Linked DNA regions of Homo sapiens: region 1 is linked to region 2. Evidence: fine-mapped expression QTL. A gene starts in region 2. The other region holds a variant in brackets. All regions are shown on one strand. Distances are from middle to middle.

Evidence for each region. PIP is the estimated chance that this variant, and not a neighbour inherited with it, causes the effect.
Region 1: its variant is the best candidate, but not a certain one, in a credible set for the expression of CCDC32 in whole blood (TOPMed, PIP 0.56).

Annotation. Positions count from the first base shown.
Region 1 is chr15:40,527,612-40,532,988 of GRCh38, forward strand. It overlaps a transcript of CCDC32 not described here, the pseudogene RNU6-516P and the pseudogene MRPL42P5. Among named protein-coding and RNA genes, the nearest start is that of CCDC32, 35 kb to the right of the region's middle. The variant C/T (reference allele first, on the strand shown) is at 2,379.
Region 2 is chr15:40,562,229-40,567,605 of GRCh38, forward strand. It overlaps CCDC32 (coiled-coil domain containing 32), which reads right to left and starts at 2,814. Exons shown (of 4, transcript NM_001080792.4): 1 at 2,748-2,814; 2 at 544-799. The coding sequence starts at 787. RefSeq lists enhancers at 3,213-3,262, 3,742-4,036 and a silencer at 4,989-5,168.

The DNA.
Region 1 (5,377 bases), 35 kb before region 2:
TCTCACAGATGGGTTCTTTCATTCATAAATTCGTGGATTAATGGGTTACTGTGGGAGGGGAGCTGGTGGCTTTATAAGAAGAGGAAGAGAGACCTGAGCTAGCACATTAGCACGTTCAGCCCCCTCACCATGTGGTGCTGTGCTCTGCCTTGGGACGCTGAAGAGAGTTCCCACCAGCAAGAAGGCTCTCACCAGATACAGCCCCTTGACCTTGGACTTCTCAGCCTCCATAAGAGTAAGAAATACACTTCTTTTCTTTATAAATTGCTCAGTTTTAGATATTCTGTTATAAGCAACAGAAAACAGACTAAGATACCAGGTATCAAGATTGTACCCATTCATTCCGCTACTACTAGTGTACAAGAAGGCCCTTTCCCCTACTCCCTGTGGCCTATCTTCAGTAATTTTGTCAATTTGATAGATAAAAATGGGCAATAATCTTTTCAACAGAAATCAGCCTCAGCGGTCGATACTGACTGAGCAGTTTACAACCTTCAGCACAGGGCACTTCTAAAGTGTAAACTGAGAGAGGCGAAGCTCTGGCCGCTCTCATGGGGAAGATTCGGATTTGGCTAACACTTGCACGGTCAGTCATGTACGTTCACACACTTGGTCTTCTTTCTCCCTCACCACCACCCTCTAAGGTAAATGTCATTATCTCATTTTTTCAGATGAGGAAACAGGCCCAGAGAGACTAACTTCTCTAAATCAAAAAGTTAAGAAGTAACAGCCCAGGGGGTGGGGGAGTCTGAGAGTGAAGGGAAGAGTAGCAGAGGCAAGGCCATCATTAACCCTGGAGCTTGCGTGGAGCCAGGACTGGGTCTCAAGGCAAGGCCAGACCAAGGGAGGAGTGGAGGAGGGAATGACATGAAATTCTTTGCCATGGGATGCAGACTGTGGAATCTGTTTTGCCTGTGCTCAAGGCTTGTCCTGGTTGGGCATGAGGTAGAGGCTGCAAAGAGTCCAGGGCCCTCAAATCCAGGGAGGGGAAGACACCAGGTCTGGTAATGCAGAAGGCCTGAGGAGAGATTGGGCAGGGATGTTACCCTGGTGATGACGGAGGTGGGTTGGAGTTGATTATATGGGTGCAGGCCTTGTCCACAAGCGAATGGGAAACTTCTTCCGTCCTCCTAGCTGGCCTGCCCAAAGCCCTTAGCACAGATCCCATTTCTCAAAAAACTATTAAAAAAAAGAGAAGAAAAGAAAAGTAAAAGAAAACCCCTCAACAGTCCTCTTTGCATAATGGTGGCTCTGAGCCTGGGATTTCCAAGGACAGACTCGTGTCTAACCACCTCTGGCTCCAGCACGTGCTGAGTGGTATTCAGCGCTCAGCATTCTGAAGAAATATTTTCAGCAGTCTTTCGGTGGGGACCCAGTAGGCAGCTAAGTGCCTTTGTCTGGAGATTCTCTTCCCTGGTGAAGGTCAGCTCAGCTGGACAGGCTTCCAGGGTCACAGAAACCTCTGTGGACCCACACGTACACTAGAAGCTGCCGCTCTGCAGGGGTGGCTTCATCTCAGCCCCTTTTCCCACACAACCTTGGTGCACAATATGCTACTCTCTGCCAGGGGTCTTAAGGGGAAGCTTAACACATGGCAGCATCACTGGAGTGGTGGTTTGCCGGTGTTTTCAGATGACAGAGGTCCGAAGAATACAGAAAAGGGCCTTGCATCCTGAACCTGGTGAAATTGTGGCCCAGGATCACAGGAAAAGAGCACACCTTTCCTCAGTCTTTTTATTTGTGAAAATAGTACAAATAATAGAAACTCTATTCTTTGGTTGGTTATGTGTTTATTCTTAGGAAATGCGTTTATATGCAGAGAGAAAAAGCAGAGGGAGAGAGAGCAAGCACATGCACATAATGTGGTAACGTCAGTGAATCTGGGGAAAAGGTATTTGGAAATTCCTTGTACATTCAACTTTTCTGTAAGTTTGAAATTGTATCAAAATAAAAAGTGAGTACTCTCTTCCCGCAGTGCATATACTAAAATTGGAACATACAGAGATTAGCATGGCCCCTGCGCAAGGATGATCAGATGGTTTGGATGGTTTTTTTTTTTTTTTTTTTTGAGACGGAGTCTCGCTCTATCGCCCAGGCTGGAGTGCAGTGGCGCGATCTCGGCTCACTGCAAACTCCGCCTCCCGGGTTCACACCATTCTTCTGCCTCAGCCTCCTGAGTAGCTGGGACTACAGGCACCCGCCACTGCGCCTGGCTAATTTTTTGTGTTTTTAGTAGAGACGGGGTTTCAGTGTGTTAGCCAGGATGGTCTCGATCTCCTGACCTTGTGATCTGCCTGCCTCGGCCTCCCAAAGTGCTGGGATTACAGGTGTGAGCCACTGCGCCCAGCCGGTTGGGATGCTTTGTCCCTTCCAAATCT[C/T]GTGTTAAAATGTGACCTCAGGCCGGGCGTGATGGCTCACACCTGCAATCCCAGCGTTTTGGGAGACCAAGGTGGGTGGATCACCTGAGGTCAGGAGTTCGAGACCAGCCTGGCCAACATGGTGAAACCCCATCTCTACTAAAAATACAAAAAGTGAGCCAGGCGTGGTGGCACATGCCTGTAATCCCAGCTACTTGGGAGGCTGAGGCAGGAGAACTACTTGAACCTGGGAGGTAGAGGTCGCAGTGAGCCAAGATTGTGCCATTGCACTCCAGCCTGGGCAACGAGCGAAACTACATCTCAAAAAAAAAAAAAAAAAAAGTGACCTCCAATGTTGGAGGTGGGCCTAATGGGAGATGTTTGGGTCATGGGAGCAGATGCCTCATGAATGGCTTGGTACTGTCCTTATGGTAGTGAGTGAGCTCTCACTCTGAGTTCACGTGAGATCTGGTTGTTTAAAAGAGCCTGGCACCTCCTCTCTCTTTTTCTCTCTCTCTCCCTCTCTCTCTCTCTCTGGTTGTTTAAAAGAGCCTGGCACCTCCTCTCTCTCTCTCTTGCTTGGTCCCTCTCTTGCCATGTGACACACTAGGTCCGCTTTGCCTTCCACCATGATTGTAAGCTTCCTGAGGCCTCACCAGCAGCAGATGCTGGTGCCATGCTTCTCATACAGCCTGTAGAACCGTAAGCCAAATAAACCACTTTTCTTTATAAATTACCCAGTCTCAGGTATTCCTTTTTTTTTTTTTTGAGACAGGATCTCACTCTGTCACCCAGGCTGGAGTGCAGTGGCACAATCTTGGAACTGACTCCCGGGCTCAAGTGATACTCCCACCTTAGTTAGCTTCCTGGGTAGCTGGGATTATAGGCGTGCGCCACCACCCGGCTAATTTTTGTATTTTTTGTAGAAACAGGGTTTTGCCATGTTGCCCAGGCTGGTCTTGAACTCCTGAGCTCAAGCAATCCACCCATCTCAGCCTTCAAAAGTGCTGGGTTTACAGGCATGGGCCACCGCACCTGGCCAGATATTCCTTTAGAGCAATGCAAAGTGGACTGATACAGATGACATGCAAATTTGTGAAGTGTTCCATATTTTTTACTGCATGTTCTCATTTATAAGTGGGAGCTAAATGTGTACACATGAACACAGAGTGTGGAATAGTAGACACTGGAGACTTGGGAGGGTAGGAGGGTGGGAGGTGGGTGAAGGATAGGAAATCAGGGGGTACAATGTGCATTATTTAGATGATGGTTACACTAAAAGCCCAGACTTCAACACTGTGTAATATATCTATGTAACAAAACTTCACCTATACCCCTTAAATTTATATTTCTTTTTTTTTATTTTTTTTTTGAGACAGAGTCTCACTCTGTCACCCAGGCTGGAGTGCAGTGGCGGGACCTCGGCTCACTGCAACCTCCGCCTCCCAGGTTCAAGCGATTCTCCTGCCTCAGCTTCCCGAGTAGCTGATATTACAGGTGTGAGCCACCGTGCCTGGCCAAATTTATATTTTTAAAAAGTAACAAAAAGAATTACAAAAACCAGAGGAGCATTTTTAGGTAAATTAATCTTCATTCCCACAAGACTAGCGCAAGATTGGGTTTAAATTTTGCATAGATTTTGATTTTTGTTGTTGTTGTTGTTTGAGACAGGGTCTTGCTCTGTCACCAAGGCTGGAATGCAGAGGCATGATCACCACTCTCTGCAGCCTCAACCTCCTGAGCTCAAGCAATCCTCCTACCTCAGCCTTCCAAGTAGCTGGCACCACAGACACACATCACCACACTTGGCTAATTTTTTTTAGAGATGGGGTCTATGTTGCTCAGGCTGCTCTCAAACTCCTGACTCAAGCGATCCACCCACCTCGGCTTCCTAAAGATTTTGTGTTTTTTTTTTAAATATGAAAAGACATGTTATTATTATTATTAGTGCATACACCAGATTGCACTGTCTCCAATGGCAAATGAGGCAGAGGGTAATATTTCTCTTTAATTCCCCAAGAACCTCAATATCATCTGTCTTCTGGAGGTTCCGGTTTCTTCTGACATCTGTGCTAATGTCCACGAAGATGCCAACCGTACTTAGCATAAAGAACATTTTGCTAAGTTGTTCTATTATGGGTTCTCGCTCAAGGTGTTCACTTTTTTCTTCTCTAGTTTTCAGCACTTGACCATGTGTTTCTTCATTATTATACACAGGATCTGGTCAAGGGATAGGTTTTGTGCGTTCATATGGAATGTCTATAGAAGGATGGTAACATACTATTGTCCTGGCATCAGGTGTCAAAGCAAATTCTACTTTGCAATTGTAGTCACCTGGAAAAGAAGAGTACGTAGATTTATGACAAACATAAGGCTCCATTTTGGATTGAAGATAAATGTTTCCAGATAGTTCTCTTTGATATCACCCGTCTTACTGCTGCTACTGCCATGTAGCAAGACACTTATCAGGTAGTATGAAAAAAGATGCTTCAAAGAGAATCTGCTTCTGGGCACATTAATTTTCATCCCTGCTTCACAGCTGTTCACCATGAGCCCATCATCTTGTCTCCTTATTTTTGCATAGATCTTAAATTATTTTTACCCAGTTGTAATCATGGACAAATTTGTAGTCTGCTTTTTTTCACTTAACATTAGTTATAAACTGTTCCATACTGCTGCATATTCTTTGTAATTATAATTTTAATGATTTATAATTTAATTGTTTTACTTGAATTTGTTTTCTTTCTTTTTTTTTTTTTTTTTTTTTTTTTGAGAGAGAATCTCACTCTGTCACCCAGGCTGGAATGCAGTGGCATGATCACAGATCACTGCAGCCTCGACTTCCCGGGTTCAGTTGATCCTCCCACTTCAGGCTGGCGCGTGCCACCAGACCTGGCTAATTTTTTTTATTTTTTGTAGAGGTAGGGGGTTTCACCATGTTGCCCAGGCTGGTCTCAAACTCCTGTGCTCAAGCAATCCTCCTGCCTCAGCTTCTCAAAGTGTTGGGATTACAGGCATGA
Region 2 (5,377 bases):
ACACAGAATTTAGATGAACTGGGCAGAGGCAGGAAGTGACAAAAACTGTTTTAAGAGCTGTTCGGGTAGTCACGGCGGCTCATGCCTGTAATCCCAGCACTTTGGGATGCCGAGGCAGGTGGATCACCTGAGGTCAGGCATTCGAGACCAGCCTAGCCAACATGGTGAAATGAAACCCCATCTCTACTAAAAATACAAAAAATTAGCCGGGCATTGTGCCAGGCGCCTGTAATCCCAGCTACTCGGTAGGCTGAGGCAGGAAAATCGCTTGAACCCGGGAGGTGGAGGTTGCCATGAGCTAAGATCACGCCACTGCACTCCAGCCTGGGCAACAAGAGTGAAAGTCTCAAAAAATTAAAAATAAAAATAAAAAAAGATCTGTTCAAGGAAAAGGGGGCTGCTTCCCAACAGCCGGCTTGAAACATCCCTTGGAATTATATCTGACAGATACGTGTGACAGGAATAACAACAACACAAAAGAATAGGAAACCAAGTTTGATGTAACAGAACTTCAATATGCTTCCCTAGAGCCGTCAAACTTACCTAGAGATGCTAAATACACTTCTGAATCCTGCAAGGGAGCCCAAGGCTTTACAGCTGGCTGGACAGCAAAGTCAGCCACCTCCCTCTGGCCTTCACCTTCAGGGCAAGAATCCACAAAGGAGTCTGAGAATGCATTGTTGGCACCATCTTCTTGTTCAGGATTTGGCAGACAGGAACAAATTTCAGCCCAGAGATCCTGGCCAGATCTTGTGGCTGTAGAGTCAGCGCTCTCAAACATTTTCATTTGGAATCTGAGCTATAAAACAGAAGCTCAAGTGAGTAAGAACTGGCTTTAAGAATACAGCATAAGGTTGAGCACAGTGGCTCACGACTGTAATCCCAACACTTTGGGAAGCCGAGGCAGTCAGATCATTTGAGGCCAGCAGTTCGAGACCAGCCTGGGAAACATGGCAAAATCCCATCTCTACTAAAAATACAAAAATTAGACAGGTGTGGTGGCACATGCCTGTAGTCCCAGCTACTCCGGAGGCTGAGGTAGGAGGATCACCTTAGCCCAGGAGATAGAGGCTGCAGTGAGTGGTGATCACGCCATTGCACTCCAGCCTGGGTGACATTGCGAGGCCCTGTCTCACAAATAAATAAATAAAATAAAAATAAAAATGGAATTCCTACAAGCCATACACAAAAGGCAGATACTGTGATTCCACTTATATAAGGTACCTGAGTAGTCAAATTCATAGATACAGAAAATAGGATGGTGGGAGCTGGGGGCTGGGAGGTAGAAAGAATGGGGAATTACTGTTTAATGGGTACACAGTTTCAGTTTGGGAAAATGAAAAAGTTCTGGAGGTGGATGGTAGTTATGGTTGCACAACAATGTGAACACCACTGAATCATACACACAAAAATAGTTAAAATGGTCAATTTTATGCTACATATATTTTAACACACACACACACACACACACACACACACAAATCTGTAGGGCATTTCCAGGTTGGACAACCAGCCTGCACTTTTCTCCAAAGATCTCCAAAATGCAACAGTTCTATCTCCAGTCAATTAAATTCTGTTTTTTTTTCTTTCTTTCTTTCTTTTTTTTTTTTGAGACAGAGTCTCGCTCTGTCGCCCAGGCTGGAGTGCAGTGGCGCTAACTTGGCTCACTGCAACCTCCGCCTCCCGGGTTCACGCCATTCTCCTGCCTCAGCCTCCCAAATAGCTGGGACTACAGGCACTCGCCACCACGCCCGGCTAATTTTTTGCATTTTTTAGTAAAGACGGGGTTTCACCGTTTAGCCAGGGTGGTCTCGATCTCCTGATCTTGTGATCCGCCCGCCTCGGCCTCCCAAAGTGCTGGGATTACAGGCGTGAGCCACCGCGCCCGGCCCCTAAATTCTGTTTTCAACAGAACACAGACTAAAGGTCTTTCCACAGTTCCATATACATGAAGATCCTGCTTGGTAAAAAGTGTCTGTCAGAGAGTACTGTTACAATGCAAGGGCTGTGTGCTCAGCGCATGCAGTTCAGCCGTATGTCTCATGCTCTTATTTTAATACAATCACTGAAAGGTAGGTATTTTCACCATTTTACAGATGAAAAAACAAGTTCAGAAGGGTAACTTGCTCTAGGGCACATTACTGATATGTGGGGAATCCTTGACAGGAAAACCAGATCTGTGCTGCTCCAGAATCCATGTTTTTATCAAATACCATCCTGCTTGTTTGGAAAATATAACGAAAGCAGCCCAAGCACGGGCAGGTAGGAAAAGCTACGCAAAGAGCCTGGAGGCTTTTATAACTATCTAGGCATATGAGACAGGCTGACACCTTCTTTCAAGAGGAGACTTAGAAATCAGGAAGGCTGCCTGAGGCAAGGTCTGAATAATGCCAGGAGACAGAGCCCAGCCAGCGTAAAGGCCGGAAGTAAAAGGGACAGCTATGACACGGCGGTCCTGGGTGAACTGATGTCTAGCGCTACAGTGAACCCCCAACCCGAATTCGTCTAAAGCCACCCAAAACCAAAACTTTGCTCACACCAGAGCCCCGCATGGCCCCTTACCCCAGGGCAGGGCGTCCAGAACCACGCAGGAAATTCCGGCGTCCAGATCCCAGGCCTCAGTCGCTCAGGTCTCTAGGGCTGTCTGGACGGGATGAATCAGGTCCCAAGGCCTCTATGTGGTATTCCGGGGCCGGGCCAGAGTGGGAGATCCAAAACGCTGGGCACCCCAGCCCCTCCTCACTTACCGTAACAGCTGCCCAGTAAACGCTTGGCTCAGCTCTGTCGCCTGTAGCCCGGAGGAAATCGGGAGGGGCGGAGTCCCCTAGTGACGGAGCCCAGGAGTCCTCCAACTACCTTCCCACCCGACGATGTTCTGTGCGTCGATTGGTCGAGAGGAGCTCAGCGTGGTGAAGAAGTGAGGAGCAGCAAGAGGCGAGCGGTGGACGGGGCTCTGGTTGCCGGGAAACGGTGGAGTCACGTGCCCTGAGCATTGCCCCTCCCCTCCCGAGGGCCAGGTTGATTCCTTGCAGATCCAGGGTTCCAGTCCCTGCTTGGATAGGGAAGTCGTTTCCAAGACTTTTGACTTTTCCTAGTCGCCGGAGCCAGTTCACCTCCTCCACAACTTTCTCTGTCGGTGTTTGTCTTCTAAAAATTTCACCCCTTCGTTACCCAAATTAGAGCACTTCGGCGGCTTCTTTCCTTACTCTCCCAGGAGACTCGTGTCTCATTCATCAAATTATGAAGCTTTCCTTCATTCATTTAGTCAATAGATACCAAGCACCTGCTGTGTTCTAAGCATTGTGTTAAGCGTGAAGTTAAGACACATATGACTTGATATAAGTCCTGGAGATCCTTACAGCTTAGTAGTGTAGGAAGGGGGTCCGCCATGGAGGCATAAAAGTTTACAAATAACAGTAAACAGTGATAGACAGCCGGGCGCGGTGACTCACGCCTGTAATCCCAGTACTCTAGGAGGCCGAGGCAGGTGGATCACCTGAGGTCAGGAGTTCGAGACCAGCCTGGGTGAAACATGGTGAAACTCTGTCTCTACTAAAAGTACAAAAATTAGCTGAGCATGGTGGCACATGCCTGGAATCCTAGCTATTCGGGAGGCTCAGGCAGGAGAATCGCTTGAACCGGGAAGGCAGAGGTTGCAGTGAGACAAGATCGCACCACTGCATTCCAACCTGGGCAACAGAGCAAGACTGTCTCAAAAAAAAAAAAGGAGGGGGGCGTTGAGGATTATAGAGTATATGATGGAAGTGTGGCCAGAGTACATAAAGGAGAGAGTGGTCATAAGAAGTGTGTGTCAGAATGCTTTGTTGTTGTAGTTGTTAAAGGAGATGACCTTTGATATCCTTCAGGGGATAGATACCAGCTTGTTCATTGAGATCGACCCCTCCCCATCCCCAGCTTCCAGGATCAACACCAGTTACTCTCTCCCAAGAAACACGTGATGAAAGACATCAGCCAACCATCAGTAGCCAAGTAACTTGGCTGAGGAAATAGTTCTCACTCCAGCCTGGGTGACAGAGCAAGACTCCGTCTCAAAAAAAAAAAGAAAGAAAGAAAAAGAAAACAACAACAACAAAAACAACATAGTTTTAGGATTACAGATGTGAGCCACTGCGCCCAGCTAAAATACAATTTAAAATTCAGTTCCTGGCCGGGCTTGGTGGCTCATGCCTGTAATCCCAGAATTTTGGGAGGCTGAGGGGGTGTGGATCACCTGAGATCAGCAGTTCGAGACCAGCCTGGCCAACATGGTGAAACCCTGTTTCTACTAAAAATACAAAAATTAACTGGGCGTGGAGGCGCATGCCTGTAATCCCAGCTACTCAGGAGGCTGAGGTAGGAGAACTACTTGAACCCAGGAGGCGGAGGTTGCGCCACCACATCCGGCCTGTAATCCTAACACTTTGGGAGGCCAAGGTGGATGGATTGTTTGAGCCCAGTTTGAGACCACCCTAGGCAATGTGGCAAAACCTCGTCTCTACTAAAAATACAAAAAATTAGCCAGTCATGGTGGCACATGTCTGTCGTCTCAGCTACTAGGGAGCCTGAGGTGGGAGGATCACTTCAGTTTGGGAAGTCAAGGCTGCAGTGAGCCAAAATCGTGCCACTGCACTCCAGCCTGGGTGATGGGAGTGAGATCTTGTTTCAAAACTTGTTAAAATTTTAATTAATTTAAATTTAATTAGCCACATGTGGCTATTGTACAGCACATGGCTAATGGTGATCCTATTGTATAGCACAGGATTGGAGAATATTACATAGTTCACAGAACCTCAAGGTGAGTGGAGAGTCAGGCTTTAGGTCTATACAGCCAGGGACAGTATCTGAATCTCACTGAGAGACTGCTCAGGGAACACCCCACAGCCACTGAACATCTATAGCTGGCATTATTCGTCGATTGGGTACTTGACACAAGAACCTCCCCGACTGTTGGCCTCCCAGATTAGATGCCTCCAATGCTACCTTGTTAGACACGGATTTCACACTGAGCCTGCTTCCGCGGCTGTGTGCCTCTGAACCAAAGCCTCTGTCTAAGAGATAGAGCCCAGGTCAAATGCCTATGTCCAAGCTGCAAGAGAGTGTGGGAAGGCTCTGGCTTCTACCTTTTGGGGGCAGTAATGAAATGTGAGAAATTCCCCACCCAAAAGAAGGGTGTTCGGAAGATGCTGGATGTTTACAGAATATGACAAATGTCTACTCTACATGGTCTATGCCAGTGCTTCTCAAGCTTTAATATGCAGAAAAATCACCTGAGGATCATGTTAAAGTGCAGATTCTCATTTAGTAGGTCAGAAGGGGAGGAGGAACAAGATTCTGCTATGTTTTCTGTCTCCACAGTTTTGCCAGGCACTAGTCCAAG